Regions from separate parts of the Homo sapiens genome. Here regions 2, 3, 4, 5 and 6 are each reported to be linked to region 1. Evidence: microRNA targets listed by miRTarBase, many of them from high-throughput screens and not tested one by one. Region 1 holds a microRNA gene; each other region holds the end of a gene's coding sequence. Distances are between the middles of the regions.
What was found. Region 1 holds the annotated microRNA hsa-miR-3140-3p (AGCUUUUGGGAAUUCAGGUAGU, at 2,038-2,059, shown strand). A microRNA usually pairs through its seed, bases 2 to 8, with sites in the 3' UTR of a target mRNA and lowers its output. Matches are read on the target gene's strand: a 7mer-m8 pairs with bases 2 to 8, a 7mer-A1 pairs with bases 2 to 7 and ends in A, and an 8mer does both.

Region 1 (5,112 bases):
GACTAAGCCTAAGTTTTTGGAGGGAAAGATATATCTATTCTTGCTGTTTTAATGTCTAGAATAATAATACATTTATTGAATGATTATGTTGGTGTAGTTTTTTAAAAAAATTGAAGGATACCCAAATTGAAGAGCTATTCTATTACTGCTTATGTTGTAAGGTCAGTATGTTATAAAATGTATGAATGTGAGAGAATGACTGAGAAATGATAATGGTTTCTTTCTGATTTTATTGGCATCTGATAAAAACAAGGGGCAATAAAACTGTGTTATTAGATCTGGAACTATATCCGGAAAGTCCTGTCAGTTGGTTCTCAAATGCCCTTGAGCTTTATTATGCTTCTTCCTTATTAATGTATTAAGCCGTGTGAGTGAAAGACCCCTTTCCTCTTTACAAAGAATATTCTAAATCACCTCTTTTTTCTCTCTTCTCTAATGTGCTTCTTCCTTTGACTATTAGTTTTGGTATTTATCAGGGACAGCGATCTTTAAGAGCTTGTTGTTTTGTTATTTTTTGTACTGCTTGCTGTATGTTTTAAATTTTGATATATCTTACTGCCAAATGAAGGTGTGAGCTCATAAGTAATAAAGATAGAAAAAATCTGCTTTGCTTATAATTATACCATTAAACATGTTGTCCTTAATGCAGATACACACTATTGGTATTGTAGGTGCAGGATTATGTTTTGATTTTTGCCAGTTCATATTTCCATGGAGTATTTAGGCAATTTTAACAACATAGATTTCTGTAATGAATGTTTTTTTAACTTATGCTGCTGCTTGAGAGACAGAGTCAGACTGCCAGGGTTTGAGTCCTATGCCCAATATTTCCTAGCTCTGTGACTTTTGAGTTATCTGCTTTTTGCCTGTTTCTTCCTCATTAAAACAGAGATACTAAGTGTACCTTATAGTGTTGTTGGGAGGGCTATTTGAGGTAGTATATGTAATGCCTGGTACTTATTAAATGTTAGATCTTTTTTACTTTCTTGGGTTCTAGGGAGTCCAATAAGTAACAAATTTTTCCTCTAAGGTTTTTTTCTTTATTGGTGGCAAAATATACATAGTATAAAATTTACATTTCAACCATTTTTAAATATACAATTCAGTGGCATCAAGTACATTCACAATATTTTGCAACCATCCATCTCTGTCCATTTCCAGAAGTTTTTCATCATCGCAAATAAAAACTTGATACCCATTAAACAATAACTCCCATCTTTCCTCCCCTGATTTCCTGGTAACGTATGTTATACTCTGTCTTTATGATTATGACTATTCTAGGTACCTCATAAATAGAATCATACAGTGTTTGTCTTATTGTCCTCTCATTTCATTTGGCATAATATTTTCAAAGTTAATTCATGTTGTAGCGACTTCTAGTTCCATTTTTTGTGGTTGAAGAAAGTACTTCCCTAATAGAAATGAAAACATGTTTGCAAGGCTTTTTTTAAAGAATGCTTATGGATTTAGTCATAATAGGTAACAACTGAAAACATTGGTATGGCTGGGTCAAGTTGGACTAATTCACTGTAGCCCAGGGTCATGTAAGAACATGGAGTTTTCAAGGTAGGCATGGGGGTGGTATTGAGGGGAGGGTAGTAAGCATAAAAGACAGTGCTCAGAAGAAGATAAGGGTGCCAGGTTTCAGTTCCAGGGATGTTCACAGTAAGGATTACAGTGGGCTAAATTTTAAGATTAATTTTATAAATTCTAAACACATCCTGTTGACTTTAACTGCAACTCTTAAAATGTATCAATAACATGACTTTATAATTCCTGGAAACTGATATTTTCCCAATACTTTGAAGAGGTTTAAAAATAGTTGACTAATATTAGAACCAATATTTCATGTATTGATTTTTCTCTTTAAGTGACAGTTAGTTTAGAAAATGCTAAACTTAAGTTAGCAGTATAGAGTAGGTATATAGTTATACTGAGTATGAATGTCTTGGTAGGCTTGGAAGCCTACCATTTATGTCCTCTTGAGGTACCTGAATTACCAAAAGCTTTATGTATTCTGAAGTTATTGAAAATAAGAGCTTTTGGGAATTCAGGTAGTTCAGGAGTGACTTTTCTAAAAAACAGAACTGAGCACCATACACTACTTCTTATAGCCTTTTAATTACTGCCAATTGCCTAGAATAAAGTTCAAATTCGAGGGCAACACAAACATGGCCCTTTGTGAACTGACAGACATTTCCTAATAATTCCTTACATACATGATACCCTTGAGCCTTACAGAATTAAGAATTTCTGAATTTACCTTGGTGTTTGATGCATCTGTGTTTCTATACGTGCTGTTTATTTACCTAAAATAGACTATTCTCTATTTAGCCTCAAAAGTCTCATGGAAGGTTTTAAAAAATCCTGTCTAAGCTCTGTTAATTATATTCTTTATACTATTATATTTAGTAGTTAATATTATAAACTACCTTACAGTAATTTTTACAGATACCTGGCTTACTCCCTAAATTGAGTTGCTTGAGGGCAGGAATTGTGTATTAATCTTTGCTGTATTTTCTTTGCCTTGCTTACTGTAGTTGATTGGTGCTAATTGAATAAATGAACATTTATGCTTTTCTTTTTGAGAATATTATATGGGTAGTTCCTTTAGTTGTTTAATAGAAGATAGCACAGACTTCTATACAGATTGGTTTTTATGGGAAAACACAAGAGAATAATTAATTAAAACATAATTTCATCTAGAAATTTCTGCAGTTGGAGCGAATATTTTTTAAGTTATTAACTTACCTAGAGTGGAAGATTGAATTTTTGAATGATAGTGTTTTAGTTATTAAAGTAAATGGCATGTAAGAGAACTTTTAAGTTCATGTGGCAAAACAGGGAAAAATTGCAAAGTTAGAGTCTGTAAGGTTTCTGATGTTTCATAGACTAACAAAAGGTTGCTTTATTAGCAGCATTAATGAACGAATCGCTTTATTGGCCTAGGCATACTGGTAGCATTGTCGTTCCAAAGAGCTGAGAGTTCTTATTTCAATTCATGATTATGTTAGACAAGTGAAGTGAAAGCCGTTGACCTTCTCTTAAGGAGAAAATAGAAAGTTTTTACAAATAGATTATAGATTAAAGCCTTTTAAGGAACATGATGAAGAACTAAATTACTGCTAAATCACTTGAAAAATTTATATTTTTTTATGCACCAGTCTTATAACAGTAGGTTTTTTATAGACCTATTAATTGATATTTAAAATAATAACTTTAATAGGATGATTTTGTAGAGTTAGTCAAAGTGATTGACAAAAGCAAATTATTAAAATAGTCAAACTTTCAATTCTCCAAAGAATGTTCAGTTTTAAAAGCAATATGAGATACAGGAAGTATTAAACTGGAGATGTAATGCCACTTGGATGGCATACTTTTAACATTATTTTTTATTTGTTTAAATGGAATGCATTTTGCTTATTAGAATCATTTTGGAAGTGCCAATTTGCTTCTGTTAATTTACATTAAAGATTAAAATAGGAACCACTGGTGACCTTCTAAATCAAAGTTCTTCAAAACGGTTGTTTTAAACAGCAAGAATTACAGAACTAAGTATTGTATAGCTATTAAAACTGAAAATTATGTAGCAGCAGTCCATTTTAAATTTAACAATTTTAAATGATACTTCAAAATATAAAAAATACAAGGAAGAATATAAGATGCTTATGTATCTGTACTGCCAAAATTTAACAAATGTTAACTTTTTGCTATCACTGTTTCAGAACTTTTTAAAATAAATTAAAAATATAATTGAAGATTACTAATCTCATTCTTTTGCCTCTCTTCTCAGAGGTAATTACTTTTCTAAAGGTATCCTGTAAGTTTTCAATACTTTTTACCACATATTTGTATAAAAAGATAAACAGTACTGATTTCCTTTTAAAATGTGAATAATAATATACTGTTGGCATAACTTTTTAACTTGCTTTTTTCACTCAGTGTTTATTTACATCAAGATTTATTCATGTTGATATTTGTATGTACTTAAAGTTTGTTTATTTTATCCTCTGAATTATTAGTTTGGTCCATTATTTATGATGTTTAGTTTGATTACTTGGTTAAGGTGGTGTGACCTGATTTCTCTATTGTAAAAGTATCCTTTTCCCCTTGATAATTAATCATTAATCTGTGGGGTAATGCCTTGAGACTGAGTAAACATTGTTTCTCAACAGCCTTTCACCCAGTGTTTTTAACATCCATTATTGATTTATGCCTGAATTATTGGTTACATTGATGCTTGCAAAATGATTTTCTACATCTATTATTCTTTCCACATTTATTAGCTGGCATTCTTCTTTCTGTAAAGGAGTTTCTGTCCTTTCACTAAGGGCTCATGGTTTCTTCATTAATTCGGTGAACTAAAATCCATTATTGTTATGTAGTCATGCACTGCATATACGACATTGATCCCATGAGATTATAATGGAGCTGAAAAATTTCTATCGCATAGTGACGTTGTAGCTGTTATAACATGTTAGGACTAACGTCACAACCAACATATTACATGTTTGTAGTGATGTTAGTGTAAGTCAAATCTACTGTGCTGCCAGTCTAAAAGTATAGCACATATAATTGTGTACAGTACATAATACTTGATAATAATAATAAACAGCTATGTTAACGGTTTATGTATTTACTATGCTATACTTTTTGTTGTTATTTTGAATGTACTTCTACTTATTAAAAAAAAAAGTTAACTGCAAAACAGCCTCAGGCAGTTCCTTCAGGACGTACTCCAGAGACATTGTTATTATAGGAGATGACAGCTCTGTGCATGTTATTGTCCCTGAAGACCTTCCAGTGAGACAGTATGTGGAGGTGGAAGACAGTGATACTGATGATCCTGACCCTGTGTAGGGCTAGTCTAATGTGTTTGTTTGTGTCTTAGGTTTTAGCAAAACAGTTTTAAAAGTAAAACAGGAATTTTTTAAAATAGAAAAGGCTTGTAAAATAAAGATAAAAGGAAAGAAAATATTTTTGTGCAGCTGTACAATATGTTAGTTTTACGCTAAATGTTATTACAAAAGTCAGAAAAGTTTAAAAACTAAAAAGTTTATATGAGCTAAGGTTTATTATTGAAGAAAGAAAATGTTTAAAAATAGATGTAGT
Region 2 (5,112 bases), not on the chromosome of region 1:
CAGAAAGTTGAGAAAAGGCAAAAATCAGTTTTATAAGACTAAACAAAACTAATAATACTACACAGTGTTCATGAGGATGTGGGGAAACCAACAATCTCGCATGAAGCTGTTGGAAGAAAATAAATTGGTAGAGGCTTTCTGGATAGCAGCTCTAATATATATCCAAAACCTTAGAAATGTACTTATTTTCAGGGGAGCTAAGCTATGAAGACACAAAGGCATAAGAATGGTACAACGGAATTTGAGGACTTAGGGAAAAGGGTGGGAGAGGGGTGAGAGGTAAAAGACTACACATTGGGTACCGTGTACACTAAAGAACTTATTCATGTACCCAAACCCCACCTGTTCCCCAAAAACTTATTGAAAAAATAAATTAAAAAATATATATATATGTATATGAGATGTACTTGTTTTTTGGTCTAGCAATCTAGAACAATCCTTCTAGAATTTGTTCTAGGGAAATAAGAATGCACACAAAGGTTTAGTTACAGTGATGTTCATGACAGCATTCCTTACAAGAATAAAAAGAGTGGAAGCAATCTAAATGTGCCATATAGGTCATTGCTACAATGAAATACAGTATAGCCATTAAAAATTGTGAGGAAAGATGGAAGGGAAAATGCTCATGATGTATGATAAGAATCACGATGGATGTACGTGTGCACTTTTCCTTCTGCCTTCAGGTCCAAGATGGCCGCTGGCATCAGACACTCTTCACCTTCCGGACCCAAGACCCCCAACAGCTGCCCATCATCAGTGTGGACAACCTCCCTCCTGCCTCATCAGGGAAGCAGTACCGCCTGGAAGTTGGACCTGCGTGCTTCCTCTGACCTCTGACCTCGTGGCCACTCTAGGCCTCACGGAGGAGGGAAGAGGAAGAGGCAAGGGGAGGGTACTGAGGGGCAGATGGCTCCAGGAGAGGCAGCTCCCCTGCCCAAGGGTCCTTGGGCAGACCCCAGCTGTTGTCTGCCCAGTAGAAGTGGGTGGGGGTAGGAGGGGATAGGGTGTCCTTGGGAACAATGGATCCCAGCTTAGCCCCAAAGACCAACCAAAGAGCCAGCCAGAGTAAGCTGGACCTGCAACCTGCCTGAGCCCCGTGGCCTCTCAGCTCTGCGGCCACCCCGTTCCCTCCCCAGCTTCCTGCCCAAAGAGCCCCACATTCAAGCCAACTTGAGGGAAGGGGGCGTCTCGTCAGCTGGTCCCTGCTAGGGAGCTATTGATGTGCAATATTAGAAAGGAGACATGAAAAAAGGAGAAAAGGAAAGACAGAAGTGTATATATATATTATTTAAACAAACAAAAAGAAGGTGCGTTACTATTTTTTTTTCACCCGGGAAAGAGGTGAGAGGATGGGAAGGAGCAGCCAGGCGTGGGAAGCGGCGAGATCCTCGGGCTGGGGGTGCCCACGTTTGCTACCTCCCACTGTGAAATCGCTGGTGCTCACAATTGTCTCTCACAGTGTATGTGATTTTTTTAAGGAAAAAAAAAAATCCCTATTTAAGATTCTGAAGGTGCTACCATTATTTTGCCACAGACTTTGAAGAAACTTTTGGATGTGGGGCATCATCCGCATCTTTCTCTCTCCTCCAAATGACAAAGTTTGGGGAATTTTTGAATTTTCCTAGCATCGCCCTTGTGCTCATCAGGTAATCTGCTAAGGAGGAAAAAAGAAAAGAAAAAAGGAAAAAAAAAAAAAAAAAGCAAAACAAAAACAAAAACAAAAACCCTACCAGAAACCAGAAGTAGAGAGATTTACCATATAACTTATGGACTTTGAAATGTCTGTCCTTTTAAGGCAGCAGGGAGGCCTGGGTGCGAAGCATGTTGGCTTGGCCCTTCACGGTCCTGGAGGGAGGTGAGGCTGGCCTTGGAAGGCGTGCCCTGGAGAGGTCTTGGGTGAAAACTTGACCTTGAAGAAACCAATCACAAAAGCGGCGTTGGGTCAGGGCTAGGCTTAGAGGTGAAGCATCAACATGGAACCATCTCAGGAAGCCGCATCGCCTCTTCCGAGGTCCTCACTTCCAGGAGCCTGTCCTTGCAAGATGCAATCATCGTTCCTGCTTTTTCATTGTCATTAAATTCTGTAGAAACCCATTGTCATTAGCTCCAAGTGTAAATTTGGGTCAAGGAGACAGAATAATAATGGGAATCTCGGAGTTCGACACCATAGTGACGTTCAGCGTCCTCTGAATTGTGCTACATCAGCGAACAAGTCGGCGCTTGAATTGGATTTTGAGGTTATTTTAACCATGGAATTATTTTTATAGAAGGGGAAAATGTATGTGAAAGTCTCTATTTGTGTATTTCTCTCCTAAAGTTGTGTCTCTTTGGGAATTGGATTTGATTTTTATTATTTAATACCTCACTTTGGCCCGTCCCCCCTCCCAACACTTCTGTATCCTCGCCCTGCCGCCCCAGCCTGGACGCTCTGCGTGGAAGTGCGTGTTTGTAGCAGCTCGGGCCTCATCTCAGCGCTCGGATCCCTCCTGCTGCCAGAATCCACTGGCCTCTGTCTCATTCTTGGGTTTTCCTGCTGTCTTCGTTTACGTCTCTGTCCACATGTCAGTGTATTAAAACCCCAATGGGTTCCGTTTCTCCTTTTCCCCTCTGGATTTTAAATAAATATTTAAAACTGAGGCAATGGAATGACACGCCTGTGGTCCCGTGCTGCTTCTCAAAGCTCAGGGGGGCAGTTTCTGGCTGGGCTGGGATAGGGAGTGGGAGGAGATGCTCAGAGGATGTCCTCCTTACGCTGTAACAAATACCACAAACTTGGTGGCTGCAAACAACACAGAACCGTCTCTCTCGCAGTTCTGGAGGCCAGAAGTTCACACAGGCAGTGTTGGCAGGGCCACACTCCCTCCAAAGCCTCAAGGGGAGGATCTTTCCTTGCCTCTTCCCGCTCCTGGTAGCCCCAGTCATTCCTTGGCTTGCAGCTGCAGCACTTCGGTCTGTGTCCCTGTGGTGACACGTGTTCTGATGTGTCTCTCTGCTCCATCTTCTCTTTATGAGGACCCCAGTCATATTGGATTAGAGCCCACACTCATGACCCCACCTTAACTTACTTTCATCTGCAAAGGCCTTATCTCCAAATGAGGTCACATTCACTGGTGCAGGGGGTTAGGACATATCTTTTGGGGGGACACGATTCAACTCCTAACACACAGGGAGGAGGTACACTGAGGTTAACATGAGCAATTTGTTTTTATTATTATTGTGGTTAATTACACATAACATAAAATTTGCCACTGGTGATAGTACATTCAGAATGGTGTGCAACGTTACCATGATCTAATTTCGTATTATTTTCATCACCCCTAAAGGAAACCTGTACCCATTTTAGCAGTCCCACCCTCCCCCAACCCCTGGAAAATCACCAGCCTGCTTTCTGTGTCCACGGCTCTGCCTACTCCAGACATTTTATATTACATTGGTGCCAAAGTAATTGCGGTTTTTGTCATTACTTCTAAATGGCAAAAACCGCAATTACTTTGGCACCGACCTAATACAAGTGGAATCATACAGTATGTGGCCTTTTGTGACCCCGGCCTCTTTCACTCAGCGTGATGTTTTCAAGATTCATCTGTGTCGTAACGTGTATCAGTACTTCATTCTTTTTATGGTTGAATGTACTCCATTGCATGGATAAACCACATTTTGTTTACCTACTCATAAGCTGATGGATATTTGAGCCAAACTGGTGGACATTTGGGCTGTTTCTACCTTTGGCTATTGTGAATAATGCTTCAAAAGGAGTGATCCCTGCCTGTCACATTCTTGAGAGAAGTCACAATAGTACCTGCCACGGAAGAAGTGAGTGGGTGTGAGTCTGGGAGATGGCGTTGCCAGACTTAAAAAATAAAACTATAGGATGCCCAGATCAATTTGAATTTCAGATAAACAATAGCTATTTTTTAGTACAAGTATGCTCCATGCAATTTTGAGGAAATGCTTATGCTAGAAATCTTTTTATTTGTTATTTATCTGAAATTTATACGTATCTGAGTATCCTGGCCTGGAGCCCACATTTCCTGACCCTTGTTTCAGATCTCTTTCTTCCTCAGCTTATTCCTCCTTCCCTGGGACAATGAATAATCAGAACTTTTCTGCCATTCTCATTGAGGAGAAAGAGCACATCACTAACAGTTGAGTTTATACCCAGGATTTTATATTTTAAAAACTTGCAGCCGGGCGCGGTGGCTCACGCCTGTAATCCCAGCACTTTGGGAGGCCGAGGTGGGCGGATCACGAGGTCAGGAGATCGAGACCATCCTGGCTAACACAGTGAAACCCCGCCTCTACTAAAAATAGAAAAAAAATTAGCTGGGTGTGGTGGCGGGTGCCTGTAGTCCCAGCTACCCAGGAGGCTGAGGCAGGAGAATGGTGTGAACCTGGGAGGCGGAGCTTGCAGTGAGCTGAGATGGCGCCACTGCACTCCATATTAAGGGATTTATTATATGAAATTGGCTCATGCAATGATGGAAGCTGACAAATCTTAAGATTGGCTGCTGGCAGCTTTGAGACCCAGGAAAACCCAACGGTTCAGTTCAAGTCCAAAGGCAGGGAAAAAACCTGTCCCAGCTTGAAGGCAGTCAGGCAGAAGGAATTCGCTCGTACTCAGCCTGTTTGTTCTATTCAGGCCTTCAACTGATTGGATGAAGCCCAGCCACATTGGGGAGGGCCATCTGCTTTACTCAGTCTCCCATGGGATTACCCAAATGTTAATCCCATCCAAAAACACCTTCACAGACACACCCAGAATAGTGTTTGGCCAAATATCTGGGCACCCTGTGGCCCAGTCAAGGTGATACATAAAATTAACCATCACACTCCTCAAGCTGAGGTTGAAAGAGAAGGAATAGAAGTGAGCCAGATGGGGAAGGGCACTTGGGGTAGAGGGAACAGTGCCTGCCAAGGCCCAGAGGTAAAGGTAGCACTTTGCATTTGGGAACGGTAAGTGTTCCCATGTGGGGCTGCAGGAAAGGGTGAGGAAGCCTGCGGTATGGAGCTGGGAACATGACAAGTCACAGGTTTGCACAGATGAGCAGAGGTCTGAGTTGGCAAGTTGGGTTTGACTGCCATGGGGCCCTGGAGCAGAGCCATCCAGGAGGC
Region 3 (5,112 bases), not on the chromosome of region 1:
GTTGACAGCAACTTTCAGTTAGTAACAAGGTCATCTTGAATTGCCAACACAGCTGGAGCAACAGTCAGCATCATCAGTTTTCCCTAATGACCTACAATGCTTTCCAATCAAGATCAGGTGTTTGTGGGTTATTCTTTACCAAGAGCGCCTTCCAATCTATGTATCAGACAAGGTGGTAAATTTTCTTTGTTTCACAAAAGCAATATGATTCCTATTTGAAATTAATTCACTTTTGCACAACAAGTGACCCACAAGCCAATTCCAGCGGCACAAGAAAACGAAGAGAGCTGCAACAACTTCATTAGGACAATGTGTTTTGCTCTGGAATATTTCATTATCAATATAAAGCCACCCGGTCCCAGCCCCACCCCCAAACATCCCCTTTGAATATTACTTTGTTACATACTTAAACTAAAGAACAACATCTCAATACACTTCAGTGTCAGCAGATACAATTTGACTCATGAAATGACATCCTTAAATGTAATTTTACCAAGAAGGCAAACACTAGGACTGTATACAATGGATTTCTTAAGCTCATTTATGCCAGTTTTTCAAAGTCAATAAGGGTCTTATTACCCGGGGTAAAGAGCCAAGTGGACCAAACTTGTCAGAATGCTTTGGGGGAACATTCAACATCAAAATGATCCCCAGAAAGTGGATTGGAATTCCAGCCAGAACTGCTATTATGTACAATAATAATCCTTTTCCACTCTGGATGCCCAATCGAGCTATCCCCTTCACCCTGCCTCTCCCTAAACTGCCCTTTGTCCTTGCTGCTTCAAGTGGACCACTTTTTGTTTTTAATATGATAGGGCTACAGGGAAAAGTCAGCTAAACTCCCTTCATAAAATCAGTCAGTCATATGCTGAAGTAACACTATCAAGATGATACTCTTGAGTGGTTCCAATTTTCAGAGATCTAAATTGTATTTTTTAAAAATATTTCTGATTAGAGATCAGTGGATCACTAAGCGAACAATTTTGTCTAAATGAACACCTTAGGTGCAATTTTGGATGAAGAAGTATACCTGTCTGGGGAATTGCCAAAGCAGTTATCATTAAAGCATGTCACACTTCAACACCAACTCCTCCTTAAAAGGGACATCAGAATAAATGGAATAGAACTCCCTAGGACTTAGGAACCGAAATCACTCCCTTGAGTTTATGTGTGCAACATGTTTAGAGAACAAAAGGGAGAATATTTGGCCCTGTGAACCTTGTAGCTTTTCACCAGACATGCCAAAAAGGAGAAGGTGGGGTGGGGCGGGGGGGACATGAGCCAAAGGGAAATTTAGGATCCTTGCTCAGAATGCCTATTTGCAGGTACAGCCTGCCTACAAAACCAGTTTACAAAGCCTTCCTAGTATGCACTTGTGCTTCTGAGAGGACTCATACATCAGACAATTGTGGGGAAAAATATTTCCTTAATGAGAGGAATTCTCTGAACATGCTCAGTGAGGTTTGGAAGCCAAAAAAATCTGACTGCCCACTGAGAACAAAGTATTTGGATAGGGAAGAAGGATGGATCTATAGCTTGAAGATGAATTATGAAAAGAAATGAAGAAAACCCAAGAGAAAAGCAAAATCAATGCCAATGCCACTCTAACCATTTAAAACTTGGCTGGTAAGAGGCATGGCAGCCAGTGGCCTCTCTGGCTCAACAGCCACGTGACAATTAATGTTCCCACTTTCCACAATCTTTTCTGCTCCCTGGTTCCCACTGAGCATAGCAAGAAATACACCTGTAGAAAACTGTGAAGTCTGACTTCAAAGTGACCTTGAAATCGTAGCTAATAACATAATATCAGGATGGATCAGGGTGAGAAACAGTCTAAATTCTATAGGCAGCCATCATAACTTAAAGGGGAAATTTTTAAAAAATTTTTAATGTGTTAATCAAATAGTCACTTGCAAAGAGAAATAAATACTTAATTCAAAATCCACTACCAAAATGAAATAAATCAGAGGGAGAAAACTGTATGAGAGGCAATGAAATGAGGAAAAATGAAGATGTTATGGTAATTCATCCTTAATTGTGTCAGCTTCAGAGGGAAATTTGCAGCCACACCAATATTTTGCATGAGGTAGTATTCAGCACTGAATAAGAAATAAGGATGGATTTGTAGCTTCATTATAAGTTCTTTTTCAGAAATGTTCTCCCCTACCTAACCCCATCCCTACTGCCTTACCCACCCCCTCCCTCAAAACCCTTCTCCCTCCTGTAAAAGAAAATATTCCTAGTAATGCGTAAAGCTAGGAACTCAGGCAAAAATAAGTAAAACATTCAAAAGAGCTGACTTATCTACCTAAACTTAAGAAAATAAATCCTCTTTTGCATTCTAGTGCTCTAACCTCTAGGCCTTCTCTCTGTGTATTCCTGAATTTCAAAAAATGAAACAAATGAAAACAGAACCATAAAACTTGTTTCTCTAGAAACAACTCTCTTAAGACCAAGGCAGAACAAAGGTGACATATTTCTTTAGTTTATTTTTAAATAATGAACTCTTAGGCTGCAAAAATACTATGTTGGCTAGTGAATATTAATAGACAAAAGATAAATGGGGGAGTTAGAGGAATGTTAAAACAGAAAAAAAGGATCTACAGTGTGTTAATTTAAAAAGGGTGTATTCCTAGCCTACAGCAAAAAGAGTTGGCTAAATCGAAAGGATTTTTATTTTAGTATTTTCTTGTTCACATTTTTAATCAAAAAACTATTAGTCATAAAAAGATGAGTTCAAGTGTCTGAGTGTCTCCGTTTAGAAGGCACAGTAATTGGATTAGCGATGCTGTTACCTGTTACCTGTCTTTTCCAAAATATACACTTTGTACTGCTTACTCTATCCCTACGTATATAAGCCTAAGATACAGAGCAACATGGAGTTCTCAATCCCAGCCCATGACGTGCTTTGCAGTCTAATTCTAATCATGATTGGGAAACACTGAATCAGGAAGTGTGTGTCTGAAGAGATGCTAATTTAGATCTTAAAATAGATTCAGTCATCTTCAATTTTAGATGATTGGAGAGAGGGAATTTCTAAGCCTGGAAACATAACTTCAGGAGCAACTTTCCTGTTCAGGGCCTGAAAATTTAAAAGATGGATGTCATAAAACTTTCAGCACAGTATTTCTGACAACTGCAAATTAGATAGCAGCCTATCCAAAAATGACTTTCTGCAATGATCTATCATGGACCTGGGCAGACCACTGAAAGGCAGGAAAAATACTTTGCAAAGTGGTGAGCAATCACTACATGAGTTAAAAAACGTGAGTATTCTCCAAGTACTCAATCTATATGCATGGTGTTGCTCATTCATTTGCTGTCTCAGTTGTTTGCACTTTGTTTTTGTCTGTAGTTTTATTATTTTTTTAAGAAAAAGAAAACACCAACTTTTAAAAGCCTTTTGCCATCACCACACACATAGCAATTTGCAATATCAAATACAACAATAGCACAGCTAGCAAAAGGGTTTTTAAAGCAGGGGTGTCCACAGCAAAGTAGCGGCATTGGGAAGTACTCGAGCTTCAGAAACAACCTTTTGGGGGCTCAATTTCACATCACTGAATCAATGAATAGTACACAATAAATGACCATTAACTTGTCTACACTACAAAAAACAGTGGCGAGCTTATTAAAGGTGTCCAGAGCTTTTTTTTTTCACTTTTTGCTTTTTTAAATGTAATCCTCCACAAACAATGGTAATTTATATTATAATTTTGACATAGAAAAATATATAAATTCAAACACTTAATACATAATACTTTTCACAACTGAATTTGTCTCTGTTTCCCCAACATCAAGGCCCCATGAACAACTCAAGCCAAAGCTAATTTGCTCCAACTGAACACCCCTGCTGCCTGTTGAAACAAGGGACTGTCACAGAATGATAATCACCTATAAACAATACATTTAGGAAAAGCTCTGAAATATAGCCACTCAAGAACCAACCATTGGTGAGCAATTAAAACAAGAAGCTCCTGCTTCTTCACTAGCCAGTGTGGTTTCTTTCTCTTCTTCCTGGAGACTGGTTTAGAGAACGATATCCTTCAGACGCTTCACACCAGGGGACTCTTTGTTGCGACCTTCCTTCAGAATGGGGCTGACCTCATGCATGACTTTCTCGCTATCAGCTCCACGGGGCTCAGCTTCAGAGGGACGAGTAGGGCCATTGTTGACATTGTTGACATACTGCTCCAGATCACGGGCTGGGGGAGCCAGGGCAATGGTGTAAGACACGGAAGGCTTGGTGGGCAGAGAGCTCTTGAGGTGGAGGGGGGAGGTGACAGGGCTAATCGCCTCACAGCCATTGCCTGCCTCCCGGATAACGCTGTTGACCTTGGGGCTGCAGATGGTCACATCGACAGTCCTCTTGCCTTTCAGGGTAGGCCTCTCCTCAGCCGGGTGGTCGCTGACATCTTTCCCAAAGGTTGCGAAAGTCCGTTTGGTGGGGCCGCAGTCGTCATAAGCCTCGACATCAGCAGCAGTAGCTTCAATAGACAGCGCGATGATGTTCCTCACATGCTCAGGGGACTTGGAACGGATGGGCATGGGGTTCCGGGGCATCCAGCACCTGTCAGAGTGGCCAAGAATCCGGCATTCTTCCCGGCAATGAAATCCTTCATTCTGATCTGTTTGGAAAAAAGAAAATATCAATTTCATCAGCTTTTCCCAGGATTCACTGTTACTCCCCAGTGTTCTGGTTTCTTAGATATCCACAGGCCCTTGTGGGAAATGGCACTTTTAGGTAGTCCTTTATTGCCTTTTGGGACAAGTGTGAAGAACTGGATTTTTTTAAAAGGCTGAAGATCTCCCTCTATGTATATCCTTTTTAAGGTTCCCACTACTGACAAAACAAAAAACCTAAAGGGAAACACGTTATGATGAAAATACATATATATTCTAAAGTTCATCTGGAGTGTCAAGGTGCTGAGAGTCAGCATTTTAATCAACAACTCCTGCTAAAAATCACCTGTGTTTGAAACTGGATTCAGCAGATGAGGGAGTGGAGGCAGGGAAGGGAATCCAACAGTCAGTGTATTTAAGAAGCCTTGGCCATATTTTTGAACAACAGCACTGCCAAACACCCTTCCACCCTACCCATCACTGATACAC
Region 4 (5,112 bases), not on the chromosome of region 1:
GCAGTCTAGTCCTGAAACCCCACTCAAGCCTCCCCTTTCCTCACGAACAGGTCCTCTGCCCCCCTATTTAGATTCACATCCTCCTACCCCAGCCTTCTTCTGTCTGGGATCCCCCAAGGTAGAATCTGAGCTGACACTTCTGGGAGAAAGGTTCTTCATGGTCTTCTCTTTCATTAAGCCAAACTACTCCTTGCTGTCCAGAAACGGGAATGCTTCCTAAGGGTAGTTTTCTGGGTGGTGGGGTGGGGTTTGCCGGGCCTATTCTTGGGGGATTCAGAACATGCTGTGAAACTACTGGTGGCCTGGCCTCTCACAGTGGGAATAAGTCCTTCCTCTGGCTACAGAGCCACACTGCTCCCCCCACCTCCTAAAGAACCAGGTTACTTTTCTAGCCCTCAGGCACAAGAGTCAAATTCATGCCCCTCTCTGCCCCTTTCATGACTGGCCCGAGTCCTGATGTGACTGTCCCCACTGCCACAGGTGGCATCCACATGTGCCAGCCAGACAGGCCTTTCTGCTCATGGTCAGCCCCAGAGGCCAGAGACCTCAGAGAGGGTGGTTCTCCCCGGCCCCAGAGCCATACTCTGAGTCACATCTGGCCGGGCCTCTGGATAAGCCTACTCTCCCTGCCCCTGCAAACACACCACATTTTCCTTGTCTCTCCCACCAGTGATGACGACATTGTATTTGAGGACTTTGCTCGCCAGAGACTGAAAGGCATGAAGGATGACAAGGAGGAAGAGGAGGATGGTACCGGCTCTCCACAGCTCAACAACAGATAGACGGGCCGGCCCTGCCTCCACGTGGCTCCGGCTCCACTCTCGTGCACTCGGATGCTTACTCGTCTTCTTCCTGTTCTGGTTTCTTTTCCCCTTTGTTCTTCCAGTTTCTACCAGGGGGCCCCGTGGGCTTCCAGATCACGGTGATGAACCTCTGGCCTCAGGATTGGCCCCACATCACCACGCCAACAGGACCACAGCGCACTGGCTCCACCCCATCTCTGCCATCTCCACTCCCCTCCTTTTCATGCTGTCTCCCAGAAAAGCTGCCAGGGCTCTGGCCTTGGAATTGGACTTGAGATGGGGAGCAGACAGGGGAGGATGGGGAATGTGGGACACGGTGTGGTGGGCATGAGGGCTTGGAGGGGTGGGGATGAGGGCTCAAGACACGAGAGAAGATGTCCACGGTCCCAGGTGGTTAACAAAGTTCTGGCAGCTAAAAGATGACCGCGTTGAAGGCCACCTCCTTCTGGCTGGGAGGGGCAGAACTGTGGACAGATTCTCAATGCCTTTTTGAAGTTCTGACCCACCAAAGACCTTCTGCCTTCACCCTCCTCCCCACCTGATGTCCCTCTGTGTCTGATAGTGATGTTGGTGAAAGTTCGTAGACCCCAGGAGTAGAGAAAAGCAACTGGACTGACTTTCTTACCAGCAGTTACCTAGACTGAGGCAAGCTGTGTGGACTCACCCAAGTATATTTCAGTACTGTCAGGCTGTGACATCTTAGCTACCTTGTATTTCAAGTGCATGGCCCTGTCTAGAGATATGCACAGAGAGAAAAGCAGAGGGAGGGAGGGAGGGGGTCTTCAGCAAGCACCAGCCCCCAGCAGAGTGAGCTGAAGCTCCTGAGGAGGGTTCCCGAAGGGGGGCGCTCAGAGATGGGGGCAGGGGGCGGGGAGAGGAGAGTCTGCCTTATGTCCCTTCCTTGTGGACTTCACATGGTCATGCAGGAAGTGAGGATGGGTGTCCAGCGGGGGCCGAGGCCACTAGTATCCTCCTGCTTCCCCCTGCCATTCTCCAGGGCTGGACTGACCCTATGGACTGGGAGAGAGTGCCTGAGGCCACCATGCCACAGTCAAAGGGGGTCCTATCTCAGAAGGTGGCAGCATCCACTGAGATATCCTCACCCGAAGGGAAGGAGGCTGCTGGGTAGCAAATAAGCCCCTTCTTTTCTTGGTGAGTTGATGACCTCCAATAGCTCCCAGTGTCATGGGTACCCAGTACGCATTAGCTGGTGTTGGGTTGATTGAGACCTGGGGCAGTTCCTGGGGCAAGAAGCCAGATGGGAGATGAGATAGAAAGTGTTAGGAGTTATCCTCTTTGCCTGGCCTTTGAGAATAACTTACTGTGTGACTTTGGGCAAGTTCCTTCCCCACTCTGGGCCTCAGTTTCTCACTTGGGAAAGCAAGGAGTTTGACCAGATGATCACAATGGGCCTTCCTAGCTCTGGCCACCAAGAATTTGTGAACATTAGAGCTCCTGGTCTGGTGGGTAGAGCCAGAGCTGCTGACTGGTCTCTCTGCCTCCAGAGGGGATTTATTGGACCTCAGAGGTGGCAGGGCCCTATGGAGCACCAACTGCCCTCAACCCCACCCTGTGCCCAAGACTGGGAAGGGATTGATGTCAGGCTGTGGCCATAGGTAGCATGAGTTGCCCAAGGAGGGACAGAGCATATCTTTGCTGAGGCTTGGCTGAGGGGCTTATGATAGGGCTTGCAGTACCTCACAGCCCCCTGTGGGCACAGACACCCTGAGGTTTACCCAGGCAAATATATTGATTAGCAGGACAAGGGCTCTCTCCTCAGTTTCTGCTCCCTTCCATCTCTCTCCCATACTTGTCTGAAAAGGGAGACAAAAAATCTTATACAAGTGGCATCTCAATCCTTTCCAGTCCAGCACCTCCTGGGGCAGGCAGTGTGACTTATTTCCTGTGGTGAAATCACCTGTTTCACAAGCCTGGCAGCGCGACTTCTGAGTCTCATGACCACTCAACCCAAGGGACCCCTCCCCAGACCAGAACCAAGTCAGCTGGGGGCTGTCGTACTACCCTGTCCAGTCTTGAGGGCCTAGTTGCAGGTCCCCCAGGCATCCAGCCCCTCCTAGAGCTTGCTGGGCAGGCTGCACCTCATCTGGGCAGGCGCAGAGCTGATGAAATGCTGGAGCAATGCATGGCAAACATATGCCCTCCAGTGTCTTCTGAAACCTTTGGGGCTGACACAAGATCCTTTAGTGTTTGGGATGACCTCTTTCCTGCAGACTTCTTCCCCTATCCCTAACTCATGCATGGAAAACGTTTGTCAGGCTGGTTTCCCGAGCCTCCTGCACCTCAACATCACGCTCACCCTTTTGGGTTTAGCCCAGTGTTATTTAGCAAATTTCTCCAGCTGCAGGGAAGGATCAGAGCACTATCTTTTTTTTTTTTTTTTCTCCTGGAGCCAGGACTGCACAAGGCAATGGCCAAATTTAGTTGAATTCAGCCTACCATCCTTTGCTGATGACTCAGCTCTATGCCAAGTACTGGAGCCACAGAGATGGGTCAGTCCCAGCCCCTGTCCTCAGGAAGCCCATGGTCAGGGAAACGTTGTAGGGATAAGTAATAGAGGGCAGTTGCCTTCAGGGCTCCTGGTGGCTGCTGGTCCCTATGGTGCCTTGATGTGAATTAGAAGACGGTGCCCTTTCCAGGTGGATTCAGACCTACACTAGAACGCACAGCTTTGGGAGTGACACACAGGTTGGATTTTAGCACCCCTTGCCCCTTGGCCAGAGGTGCCCTGCTGCACGGCCATACGCTGCAGCCTCGAGGGACACACAGGCCAAAGTGTTTCCTTCAGCCTCTTCCTGGAGAGGAAGCCGCAGGTCATGTTTCCAAGCTTCTGGTCAACTCCAGGCACCACCTCCCAGCCCCCAAACATGGCCGAGCCAGTGCTTCTCTGCAGGGCCCCTTTCCTTTCTGGAGTCAGCCTGCCCAGGTGATACCTTGAAGTGAAACTAGGGGTGGGGGAGCCTCACTAGGCCCCAGGCACCATCCCACAGTACTGGCGGTTTCTCTGCCAAGTGTTTGGGGCCTGCACTGGCCAAGCCATCCGTCACTGGGACTTTGCAGTGTGCCCTGTGGGTGGCGTGTGGACACCGGTCCGGGCAGGAAGGAAAAGCATGCCCCGGTGAAAACCCACCGAGCAGAGAGCCAGCGGGACCTCCTCAGCATTCCACCCAGGGGAAGAGTTCAGTCCCCATGAAGATAAGGACTGAGTTATTTGGCTGCACCTCTCCTCAGCCTCAAAGCTCAGACCTGCTAGAGTGGGTTCACCTGGCTGTTGGTTCTGTGGGAGAGTTCCTGACAAGCTGGTTCCTACATGGTGCAGTGAAAGGAACTCTGTCCTGGAAGTCCCCAATGCCGCCTCTCAGTCCTGCCTGTCACCAACCACCTGGGGGGCTTGGGCAAGCTACTCAACCTCTGGGGCTCAATTTCCCTAACTGTAAAATGGGATTGTAATCCCTTCCCTGCCTGACGCAGGAATTGTTATGAGGCCCAGATGAGATGAAAGTCAGCGGTCAGGGCTCTGTAAGTTGAAAATGGCTGGATGTGTGTGGCCCTGCCACTGCAGGGATGGCCCAAGGTCACACAGAAAGTTTGCTGCAGGAGGAGCCCTCCCCACCAGTCTTCATCGCTTGCCCTGCTTCTCACTTAGGCAGATGTCAACCAGAATGAGATACAGCCAATTTGGCTTTGATGACCCAGCTGAGAGGGAAATTTAGATACAATTCAGGAATATCATGCCCAAAAATAGTGGTCCCAGCAACCAGGACACAGAGGGAAGACCTGGATATTGTCAGTGATTGGTGGAGGGGGACATCTTGGACCCTCCTAGGCCTGGTGTCACATCTCCCATCTCTCAGACCCCACAGAGGCCAAGGGGCCTTGGCTCTGACCCAGGTTAAAGAGAGCCACCAGCCCCCAGGCTCAGGGAGCTGAAACCACCCATCCGCAGAAATCTAAGGGCAAGGAGAAATAGAAATTGTCTGTTCCTTCCCTTCAAAGTGTAAGGCCTCTTCCAGGAGCAACTGGAGCCACCACAGCTTCTCAGTGACATTGGGAGGGCTTCGGGCCCAGGAAAAACCCAAGCCTTTTGTCCTGAGAGCCGAGCCACAGCGGATGCAGTGGCGTCAGCATCCCAGAGCGGCAGCTTCTCTCCTGCCTGTCACTGGGGACTGGTTGCTCTCCACCCATCCAGGAGGAAGGGGTTAGGTCCCAGTCTTACACTCTTATAGGGTCTCATGGACATAGGCCTATGCCTGTTCTGATATCTATAATTTTTTAAACTCAAAAGGACCAA
Region 5 (5,112 bases), not on the chromosome of region 1:
TCTGCATGTCGGTCAGGCTGGTCTCGAACTCCGACCTCAGGTTACTGGCCCCCCTCAGCCTCCCAAAGTGGTGAGATTACAGGCCTGAGCCACCGTGCCCGGTCGTAATTACACTTTTATGCACAAAAAGTATAATTTTAAAAATCCTTATCCTTGAGAGTTGAGGCCCTTTTTCAAACCCATATTTAAGGAAGAACAAATATTTTACTCACTGGAGTTTTCTTTTTACCGATTTTTTAAAGCATTCATCAGGCAAAAGCTCCACTTGCTGTGAATGGCAAAGGGTACAGTTCTTAAAGGCTACCCTGGGCATAAGAATCACTCTGTAATACCTTTGTGATTGCTTTCTGCACTTGCCAAACCCAAACCTTTCAACTGGTCCATGAAAATCTACTCAACATTCTCTAATTCTTCTATTCCTACGTCAAATGTTTCATGGAAAATTATATGCCAAGTCTTTTCCAGTCTTTCCTTTTTTCCTCTGGTGGGTGGGAGGAGTTGAGGGGGTAGATATGAAAGAGACAGGAACTCCATTCTGCCAAAAGGAAGAGATAAATCATTTGAATTCCCCCTACTCAGATATTTTACATCTGCAGATAACGCAAACTGAGACACTTATAATAGGCAACAAGACTTTTTGTCACTGCCAGTCTAGATAATTTAAACAAAAGTAACTATGGTTCAATAGCTTCTTTCTTCCTAATTTCAGATGTTAAACAATACAAAGAAAGATGCTTTAGAATGTTTTTAAAATGTTATATTAATGTGAACATCACTTGAAATTTTTGTAATAGCTGCCTATTTTCACCTCCTCTAAATCAAGTTTATTTCTATTCTATGACTAAAAGTTACTTTCAATATAATGGTTAAAGTCACTAATTTTAGCCTTTTAGTTATTCACACATGCAAACATGCTTTCCCAGGTACGTCCCCTTACCTCCTCCACTTACCTCTGATGTAGCATTTTTCAATCTTCAAAGAGGTCAGAGATTTTTGAGCCAGAGGAAAAAAGTATCCCAGTATTGTGTGTAGTTGGCCAATTAGTCCAAGGTTAGAGAGCATGTTAAATATTGAGCTTAGCCGGCCGCGGTGGCTCACGCCTGTAATCCTAGCACTTTGGGAGGCTGAGGCGGGTGGATCATCTGAGGTCGGGAGTTCGAGACCAGCCTGACCAACATGGAGAAACCCTCTCTACTAAAAATACAAAATTAGCCGGGCGTGGTGGCGCATGCCTGTAATCCCAGTTACTTGGGAGGCTGAGGCAGGAGAATCGCTTGAACCCGGGAGGTGGAGGCTGCGGTGAGCCAAGATCGCTCCATTGCACTCCAGCTGGGCAACAAGAGTGAAACTCCGTCTCAAAAGAAAGAAAAAATCGAGTTTAGATTAATCCTCGAGTTTCTGGTTCACTTTAGTTGGCTACCCTCTTTGATGGTTCTAAAATTAATACAGTTAATAAACTCACTCAATTGTATAATGGTCAAAGTTTGTGGGTGGAGGAAAAAAATGAAGTGCACTGAGAGACATTCATTCCATCAAAGGCACTATGCAGTGCCTGGTATTTTCTTCCTCCATTACATATGGAGATAGCTGTTATCATATTCTTCTTCCGCAACTCAGAAGAAACTAGATAAAACACCAGAGACAACCCTTACGTTCGCTGTCTGGGACTCCGGCCCTGAAGCGGGCAATGAGGTTTGCACATACAAGTCCACGAAGAAGGAAAGGCAAAAATACTCTCTCTACTCTCCAGCCCTCATCCTCAAGGCTAGTATAAAACAAGAAAAGGTCAGTTAAATGTATTTTCATCCTTCTTTTATTTGTTAAAAATAATATGCCTAAAAGTCTGCAGATGAGCTAATATGTCCTTGAAAGGGGGCATGTTACATACAGGTCTCTTTAGCATTTCTAATTCTGTGAAAGCCACCTTAAATCTTTTGGGAGACAAAACAGTTTGTTGGAAGAAAACAGCCTCTGATGTAGCTATAAATCGCTATTCTATTTTCTTATGTATTTATAAAATCATACCAGAAATAATGAGTTGTTTTGTCAATAATAGAACACTGACATGAACTTGACCTAACAACTAGCATAAACTGTCAATTCATCTTGCATTAACAAGAAAATGAAACAAGAAATAACTATTAGAAAGAAATGACAAAATTCAAATTGACTTTGAAAAAATCTGATTTTATTTTCTCAATCAAAATGAAGTATTTCATGTTAATTTAGACTGTTTAGCTTTCCACTGATATCTCAAGATACTTTCCAGATATTAACAGTACTCAGAACTGTGTAAAAGTTAACCACCAAAACCATGTTTTAAAGAAAAAAGTTTAAATGTAAGACTAATGTCTTGGGGACTTTACTAAATGTATTTCTAAAAAAACCCTTCTCAAATGTAGAAGTATTGGCAATTCTAATTTAAAAATTTTAAATTTTTAATTATTGGAAATTTAAGTAGCAATAGTTTCAAGAGCTAAGAATCAGATTGCTTTTTAAAACAGAATTTTTTTTTTTTCCTGAGGGACTCATACTTGACAACTCCAGTTAAACATAATACTCCACCCAAATCCCAAATTTAAATGCATTATGTCACCCTGGAATAGTAAAATTATAAAATGGTATTTCTAAATTATAATATATATACATAATGCACCATTTTAACTGTCACATTTACCAGCAGAATTATGAAATCAAAAACAAATTCTACATTCAAGGGACAAACGATAAATGCTCTTTCATTGTTTTAAGAGTCCATTCCATTCTTTGTTGTTTTCTACTCCCATATTTTAAAATTATGACCAAAGGAGCCTGAAGGCCAAGTCAATCCCATTTCCCTGAACCCAACTGCCAGTAGGTACGGGCCCTACATACGCGTCCTTTAACAAGCCCCGTTCTCAAAAGGCTGGGGGTATTTATATAAGAACTTATTCCAAAGTGACTCTAAGATCCATGTTCCCAAGATCTAGTACGGGCTATTCAGGGTTCTGAGGCATGTCCAGCATGCAGGCAAACTTATCTGTTCAAATTGAGGTAAAACAGACAAAAAACACTTAATATTAACAGAAGCTACATAATTAAAACTAACCTTCTGCTGCTTATTTAAGCTAATGATGTATTCTTACCAAACAGAGACCCTCAAGTCAATCATTTCTTTTGATTTTAGTTACCACCCCCAAATTAAGCCTCTTCTTTCAAAGCTATTATTAGTTAAAAAAAAGTTTTAAAATGAAGAAAAATATTTTTTCCAGAACTTGTATTTTGTAATTAGTGTGATGCAATTTCTTTTTATTTTTCAAACTTAGAAATAACTCATGTATGGTACTATTTGGTATTTTTTTCAGATACCAAGGAATACCGACAGGATTCATAAATAGGATTTTCTGACACTGGCAGGAAAGTCTGCTAACGTTTACAAAATACCAAAGACTCTTCTTTCAAGCTTCAAAGATGGCTGAGAATTAACAGTTATGATTAGTTTTTCAGTACAAATAAAAAAATTAAATCTTGATTTTTTTGGCCAACATTTTAAACAGTCAAATTTTACTGTATTTCCAGGTTTCAAATCAAAACAAACAAAACAACTAATGAAAATTACCCAATTGGCAACAAGTCCTGTATTCCAATGTTATTTTTAAACCACCAATTATAACCTACTGCCAGTAATTATTTGTAAGTACCTGCTTGTTTTATTAAGCACTGGTCAGTTATATAAAAGAATAATTTGCAAGAATGATACTTGGCAATGGGTTACCTTAATGCTTCTGGAATAAACAGAAGCATTAACAAAACACCAGATCTTAAGCTCTTTTAAATCTGTAATTCGAATTACCCAAAGGATTTTTAAATGTTACTTTTCCATTGAAGGACTGTAGGGAGTCTAATCCCAGCTAACATGGTTGATTTTAAAAAACAAATAAATCCCTAAGCCACATAGTAATGGAATACTACACTTGCTTTTTATATCATATGGAAACAGCTCCAGGCAGAGCACAAGTAGAAGAAAACCTGCCAAATCAAAGTACTGTAAATAAAGTTCCTCTACGTACTCCAGTTGACAAAACCTCAAAAATAAAAATCAGAAGACCACCCATTGTTACCCTCCCCCCCGCAACAAAACCCACCCAAAACACTTTAGTTCTGAACCTAACATTTCCCTAAGAAGTTCACAGGAGAAGCTTTAAGGTACTTAAAGCTGCAGCAGTACAGTTGAAAGCGCCACATTACAGAGGAAATGCCCTAAAGGGTTCAGCAGCTGCCCACCCATCCCGAACCACCCCCCATCCCAGTAATATGTAAAAGCTCCTGTTAAAGTTTTTTTTGTTTTATGCTAATAAAGGCATACCACCTAGTGTGCTAAAGACTACGACTAGCAGCATTAGAGCAGTAAAGTGAAAATAGGAAGCCTATAGGAATGATCTAAATGCCTACTTAGAAGAAACAAAGCAGCAGACAGAATCCTTAGCCCTCTAGTCTATGTAGGGAAGCAGTTGAATTAAACTCAGATTTACCCACATTAACAAAAATTTAACAAAGCTTCCCCAAGACACCAGAATAAAACTTGACCTTTCCAGTCAAAGGGCAGAGAGAGGCCTCTTCCATGTCCTGGAGTTGAATGAGTTCAAAGATTGGCAATAAAGGAAAAAAGAAAGCATTACGGGTATGACGGGAACAAGCTTTGGAGTTTATCGAACAGTCACACCAAGTTTCTCTAGCACACGGACACCCTTTTCTTGGTACTCTTGTCGGGTCATCCAAAAGTTGTCTTTGTCTTTCATGATATCCGCTAGAACTGCACCACCCAGGAATACCATGTGCTTTCTGCGGGGTGGGTCTTCAATGCGGATCTTAAATTTCTAAAGGAGAAAGAAAGGATAATGAAATGGTACATGTGCACAGTGCTTTCTGCTTTATGAAAATGGCTTTTTAAATATATGCTCTCCCTCAAACTTGCAACAGTCCTGTAATATAAGTAGAACGTAATATTTGGTACCTGAGGTACAGAAACATTTAGTAATTTGCCCAAAGCTCATGTTTAGGAGACCACACATCCATCCCAGCATGCTTGGAACAGTCCTGATTTACACGTGGTGTCCCATCATTATTAATACC
Region 6 (5,000 bases), 130 Mb from region 1:
CTGCTCTCCAACTCCTGGCCTCAAGGGATCCTCCCACCTCGGCCTCCCAAAGTGCTGAGATTACAGGCATGAACTACCATGCCCGATCAGAGTTTTTTCAATTTTTTTGTTCTTTCTTAGCTTCCATGGCTTCTTAAATTCCTTCAGCATGTTTTAAAACATTAGATTACTGTTTTCCTTTGCTTTAGAGAGATGTTTCTGGGATATCTTCATTTCTGTGGGTATGTTATGCAGATTGTAAACCTTTTTTTCTTCAAGCATATTGTAAGATGTAGTCTTACATCTTGTAAGATGTTTAAATCAGATGGATTTTTCTATATGTTTCCTCCTGTATTTTTAGAAGATTCCTGTGTAGGAGGTGAGGGTGGGCTAGGACAGTTTCTGAGCTTCGTGGCTCTAGGGCTCTCTCTTCTGTCGTTATTAGAGTATTAGATAAGATGGTTTTGTGTGTTCCTACCTCTTCAGTACTTTCTGAATTCGGTCTCATTCATTTGGTCCCCTCTTCTCTCATTATCTGAACCACTCTCCTTTACCCCTGGGGTCCTTCCCTCGTCTGTGCATGTTCTATTCCCAGTACTTTTTCTTGGTATAGCCCTATGTCCTCTCACTGGTTATTTTTGAAAACTACGAAGACCAGATTGCCTTAGTACCCTCACACCTTTCTGCAGGCCTTTTTGCTAGCTACCAGGTGAATGCTGGGCAGCCTTCTCCTAATTTTGATTGTGGTTTTTGGTTCTACCAATTGAAACTCCCACCGCTATTGGGGATCCTTCTTGTGGGGGCTTGGTACATGGTGGCAAATTCTGGGTTCTTTGGCTCTTAGGACCATCACAAATCCCCCTTCCCTTCTCTCTGCTTGATCCTCCGAAGCTGCTATTGCCACGTGATCTTGTTGGTATTGATTTTATTTATTTTAAGAGATGAGGTCTCACTATGTTGCCCAGGCTAGTCTCAAACTATCCGAGCTCAAGGGATCCTCCCGCCTTGGCCTCCAAAAGTGCTGGAATTACAGGCATGAGCCACCATGCCTGGCCATGTATTGATGGTTTTAACCCAAACTATTCATATTCTGGAATTCAAAAAGATAACCTTTCACCTAGCTTTAGTGAAGAAATGTTACGGTATGCCTCCTATTTAAAAGTGATTGGTATTTTTCTTTTTACATCATAATGTCTGGGATAGGAGAGACGAAGCTAGAGTAACAATTACATTCAAAACTGCAGTGACTCAACATGGAACTTCTTTCTTGCTCATGTCACCATCAAGTGCAGTCAGGAGGCTCTCCTGGTGGCTTTCCCCAGCAGTGCCTCCTGTGCCCTGGCTGCTTCCATTTTGCAAATTCTTCGTTCATAGCTGAATGGAAAGACAAGAGAGTGGTCAATCGTGACAGTTTTACTGCCAGGCCTGGAAGTTGCATATATCACTTGTCTCCACATCTCACTGGCCAGAACTCAGTCACAAGGCCCCAAACTAATTGCATGAGAGACTTGGAAACATAGCACAGCACTAAGAATCTCTGCTACAACTCTGTACAGTTGCCCAAGCAAGTTGGTGAAAGAAGGCAGACTATAAAACCTAGGATGCTGCCTGTCTATTCAAACAGCTGTACAAGGATTTAAGATGTAATTTGATCAAAGAACGTGGCACCGTCATTTTTAAAAAAGGTTTTAATTCCATATAGTACAGTACTTCAATTTTTTTGTTTGTTTGTTTGTTTGTTTGTTTGAGACAGAATCTACTCTGTCACCCAGGCTGGAAGGCAGTGGTGTGATCTCGGCTCACTGCAACCTCCACCCTCCCTCCTGGGTTCAATAATTCTTGTGCCTCAGCCTCTTGAGTAGCTGGGATTACAGGTGTGTGTCACCACGCCTGGGCAATTTTTGTATTTTTAGTAGAGATGGGGTTTTGCCATGTTGGCCAGGCTGGTCTCGAACTCCTGACCTCAGGTGATCTGCCCACCTCGGCTGCCCAAAGTATTTCAAATTTTTGAAAAGTTTTGTGAATCAAATTATCTTCAAGTATGCAAAAACCATGTCTCCACAAACAGTCTTCAATTGCTGACAAATTTTGGGGTGATAAGGTGGTGGCATATTTAATTAAGTACAATTAAGATGTCTTTAATTATAAAGGTTTCAGTTAAATATCTTTTGGAATTATAAAGAATTAGGCTAGGCGTGGTGGCTCACGCCTGTAATCCCACCACTTTGGGAGACCGAGGCAGGCAAATCATTTGAGGTCAGGAGTTCAAGACCAGCCTGGCTAACATAGTGAAACTCCATCTCTACTAAAAATACAAAAATTAGCCGGGCATGGTGGCACACGCCTGTAGTCCCAGCTACTCGGGAGGCTGAGGCAGGAGAATCGCTTGAACCTGGGAGATGAAGGTTGTGGTGAGCTGAGATCATGCCACTGCACTCCAGCTTGGGCAACACAGTGAGACTCCGTCTCAAAAAAAAAAAAAAAAAAAAAGAATTAAACTATACCTTTAATATATGAAGAAAATGATAGTTTGGCATCATTTATAGTAAATGTGTTCATAAACATTCTAAATATTCCAAACACGTACATACAGAAGAACATAATCTTAAGACAATGATTTTTATTACCTTTAGTCTACCACATTTGTCACTATAAATATACTTATTGAAAAAAAACCATACTATTTAAATAAGAATTCAGTTCATGAAAGTTTACAAAATACAACCAATGTACTCTGACTTGTGGTTATATCTTAACTATCTCAACTGTACTTTTCTGGTATGGCCAGACCTTTTGCAAATATTACCATGGTATTTTAATTTTATGATATAAAACAGTAGCAATTTATTAAGTTTTCCATTATAAAAATTAATATGGCAATTCTCAAAATACTGAAAAAACTGTTTTATGAAAGCAGTACCCACATCACTGCAACGTATTTCCTTTCTCTTAGAAAACATCTTCAAAAGGCACATTTTAATTACTAGTGTTTATATCTAAAGATAGTAGTTTGAGTTTTGAATTTCCAGTCAATTTTCCATTATCTCAAAATTGAGCTAATGGAGGGTTGGAAGAGGTAGGAGAACGCAGGTTTCCAATGAACTCCCTCAGGGCAGCAGAATCCTCATTCATCTCGTCCATGAAGACCAAAAGGAAGATATAAGGGAAAAAGGAATGGCAGATCTGTTTTGCATCCTAATTTAACCTTCTACACAAAATACTTCATTAAAAGCAAATAAACAAACACAAGATAGTAAGCTTAGAAAACAAAAGGCCTAGACCACAAATTACCCAGTTAAGCCCAAGTGGTGACATTGGTTTTAAGCCTCAAGAAAATGAAACTTCTGCTTCTGTAAAATCACATCTTCATCAATTGAATTTAAATCACTTAGTGCATTAACAATGTTACAAATTCCAATAATGTCAGACATATGGATGATATTCAAAATAAAGTACAAAAATACATTTCAAAATCAAATATAAATGACTTTATGGTTATCTGCCATGCTCCCCTTTAATTTGGCCTGATAGTCTACATTTGACTGTAATTATAATAACATCTGTAATTTCAAGTACAATAGTACAATCATAATAATTTTGAAGAACGTATGACCTAGGACCCCAAAATGCAATCCAATATACAATTTGGAGTATGGTTTACTTTTTAGTGAAGTTTAATACTAATTGAAGTACTAAATTGAACAAGGCCAGTACTCTGAAGTACTAATCTCAAGTATTTGATCCCATGTAAGAAACAGAAGGGAATTTTTAAGGCAATTTTGGTATTCCAAAATATTGGGGATCTACCTTAATTTTCTATTATTCCCCTCAAGTCTCAATTGAATATTTCCATTTTTTAAAAAAAGGGGAAATTTCTTAGGTTTTTTCCTCACTACAACAAAGTAATTCACCAAAAATATTCTCAAGTACAAAAACCAAAATGGTCCTCTATTACTTAGCCAAGATATAATTTTCTGGTCCCTAATAATGGTCACTTTAGGAGTACTTATTCAAATTCTAAAATAGCAGCTTTTGAAATTAAGGCAACATTGCTTTATTCTTACCTGTTTTTCTATTAGCTAACTATTTTATTAAAGTTCGTAAGAGCAATTTCAGACGTAGGCATCCTCAAAGGCCTTTTGTAATGTAAGAAGAATTAGCATGAACATTCTTCTCAATATTAAAAGTTATTGTATTCTACTTGGAATTCTAGAGTAATTACAGTCATTCCAGCATGTGTAAAATTACCTTTTAAACTAACAACAACATAAAATACAAATTTTCTACAAAAATACAATATAGGAGATATAGCACTTCTTCCCTGAAATAGAAATTTAATATTTGGACAAAAAACTGTAAACTTTTGGTTACATTCAAAATACAACCTTTTAAAGACTTAAATTGAGGTTTTAGCAACTGGAGCTCCTAACAGCAGATTTATATTACTATGATGTTTTAAAAACATGATAATTCTAAACAGTTTGTTTCTCTTACTCTGACATTTACTACCAGGAGGAAAAAAATGGCTTCCTGCAATTGACAGTCTGGGTAAAGGAATTGCTCAGGTGGACAATCCGACCCTGACTTCCACCTTGACTGCGTTCCACAATCACACAAGGTATCTGTACTAGCTGGAAAGGACTCTTCCCGTCTCTCAATGCCTGAGTAAGGTTTAAGATCTGTGGGAAGAAGAGAGATTTTTACCAATTTAAAAAGATAAAAAGCTTCACTTCACTGACATTTTTTAAACCATTTATTCATTATAATTTTTATTTCATCCATTTATGAGCAACAGAGACTGTGAAGATAAGTACCTGTTATAAATATGTATTATATGAATGTATGTTTACACACACACGCGCACACACACACGCGCACACACACACACACACAATTAGCATTAAATAACTTTTGCCAGATGGTAAGTTTAAAATATTCTAGAATATCCTGCCTATGTCCAGGAGCAATGGAATCAAAGAACGGTAAGTGAAGAGGTCTACATACATATTCAATTTAACATA

Region 2: the mRNA of COL27A1 is a reported target of hsa-miR-3140-3p. Seed matches in the 3' UTR shown: 7mer-A1 at 1,697-1,703 and 7mer-m8 at 1,927-1,933.
Region 3: miRTarBase lists PCDH19 as a target of hsa-miR-3140-3p. Seed matches in the 3' UTR shown: 7mer-A1 at 3,666-3,672.
Region 4: miRTarBase lists ARRB1 as a target of hsa-miR-3140-3p. Seed matches in the 3' UTR shown: 7mer-A1 at 1,403-1,409, 7mer-A1 at 1,557-1,563 and 7mer-A1 at 3,926-3,932.
Region 5: the mRNA of ACTR2 is a reported target of hsa-miR-3140-3p. Seed matches in the 3' UTR shown: 7mer-A1 at 3,955-3,961 and 7mer-A1 at 2,490-2,496.
Region 6: the mRNA of PI4K2B is a reported target of hsa-miR-3140-3p. Seed matches in the 3' UTR shown: 7mer-m8 at 4,008-4,014.

The regions. Positions count from the first base shown.
Region 1 is chr4:152,486,283-152,491,394 of GRCh38, reverse strand. MIR3140 (microRNA 3140) reads left to right here and starts at 1,979; the gene lies at 1,979-2,068. The region is part of intron 2 of FBXW7 (F-box and WD repeat domain containing 7); the gene reads left to right.
Region 2 is chr9:114,309,866-114,314,977 of GRCh38, forward strand. COL27A1 (collagen type XXVII alpha 1 chain) reads left to right here. Exons shown (of 61, transcript NM_032888.4): 61 at 684-2,646. The coding sequence ends at 830. All of the region lies in intron 1 of LOC105376224 (a long non-coding RNA gene), which reads right to left. Among named protein-coding and RNA genes, the nearest start is that of ORM1, 11 kb to the right of the region's middle.
Region 3 is chrX:100,292,248-100,297,359 of GRCh38, forward strand. It overlaps PCDH19 (protocadherin 19), which reads right to left. Exons shown (of 6, transcript NM_001184880.2): 6 at 1-4,628. The coding sequence ends at 4,030. Among named protein-coding and RNA genes, the nearest start is that of PCDH19, 120 kb to the right of the region's middle. RefSeq lists enhancers at 3,756-4,307, 4,308-4,857.
Region 4 is chr11:75,261,833-75,266,944 of GRCh38, reverse strand. ARRB1 (arrestin beta 1) reads left to right here. Exons shown (of 16, transcript NM_004041.5): 16 at 671-5,112. The coding sequence ends at 782. Among named protein-coding and RNA genes, the nearest start is that of TPBGL, 24 kb to the right of the region's middle. RefSeq lists enhancers at 261-760, 761-1,262, 3,297-4,228, 4,587-5,086 and a silencer at 851-940.
Region 5 is chr2:65,268,308-65,273,419 of GRCh38, reverse strand. ACTR2 (actin related protein 2) reads right to left here. Exons shown (of 9, transcript NM_005722.4): 9 at 2,167-4,856. The coding sequence ends at 4,686. Among named protein-coding and RNA genes, the nearest start is that of ACTR2, 43 kb to the right of the region's middle.
Region 6 is chr4:25,276,672-25,281,671 of GRCh38, reverse strand. It overlaps PI4K2B (phosphatidylinositol 4-kinase type 2 beta), which reads right to left. Exons shown (of 10, transcript NM_018323.4): 10 at 2,468-4,658. The coding sequence ends at 4,485. Among named protein-coding and RNA genes, the nearest start is that of ZCCHC4, 34 kb to the left of the region's middle.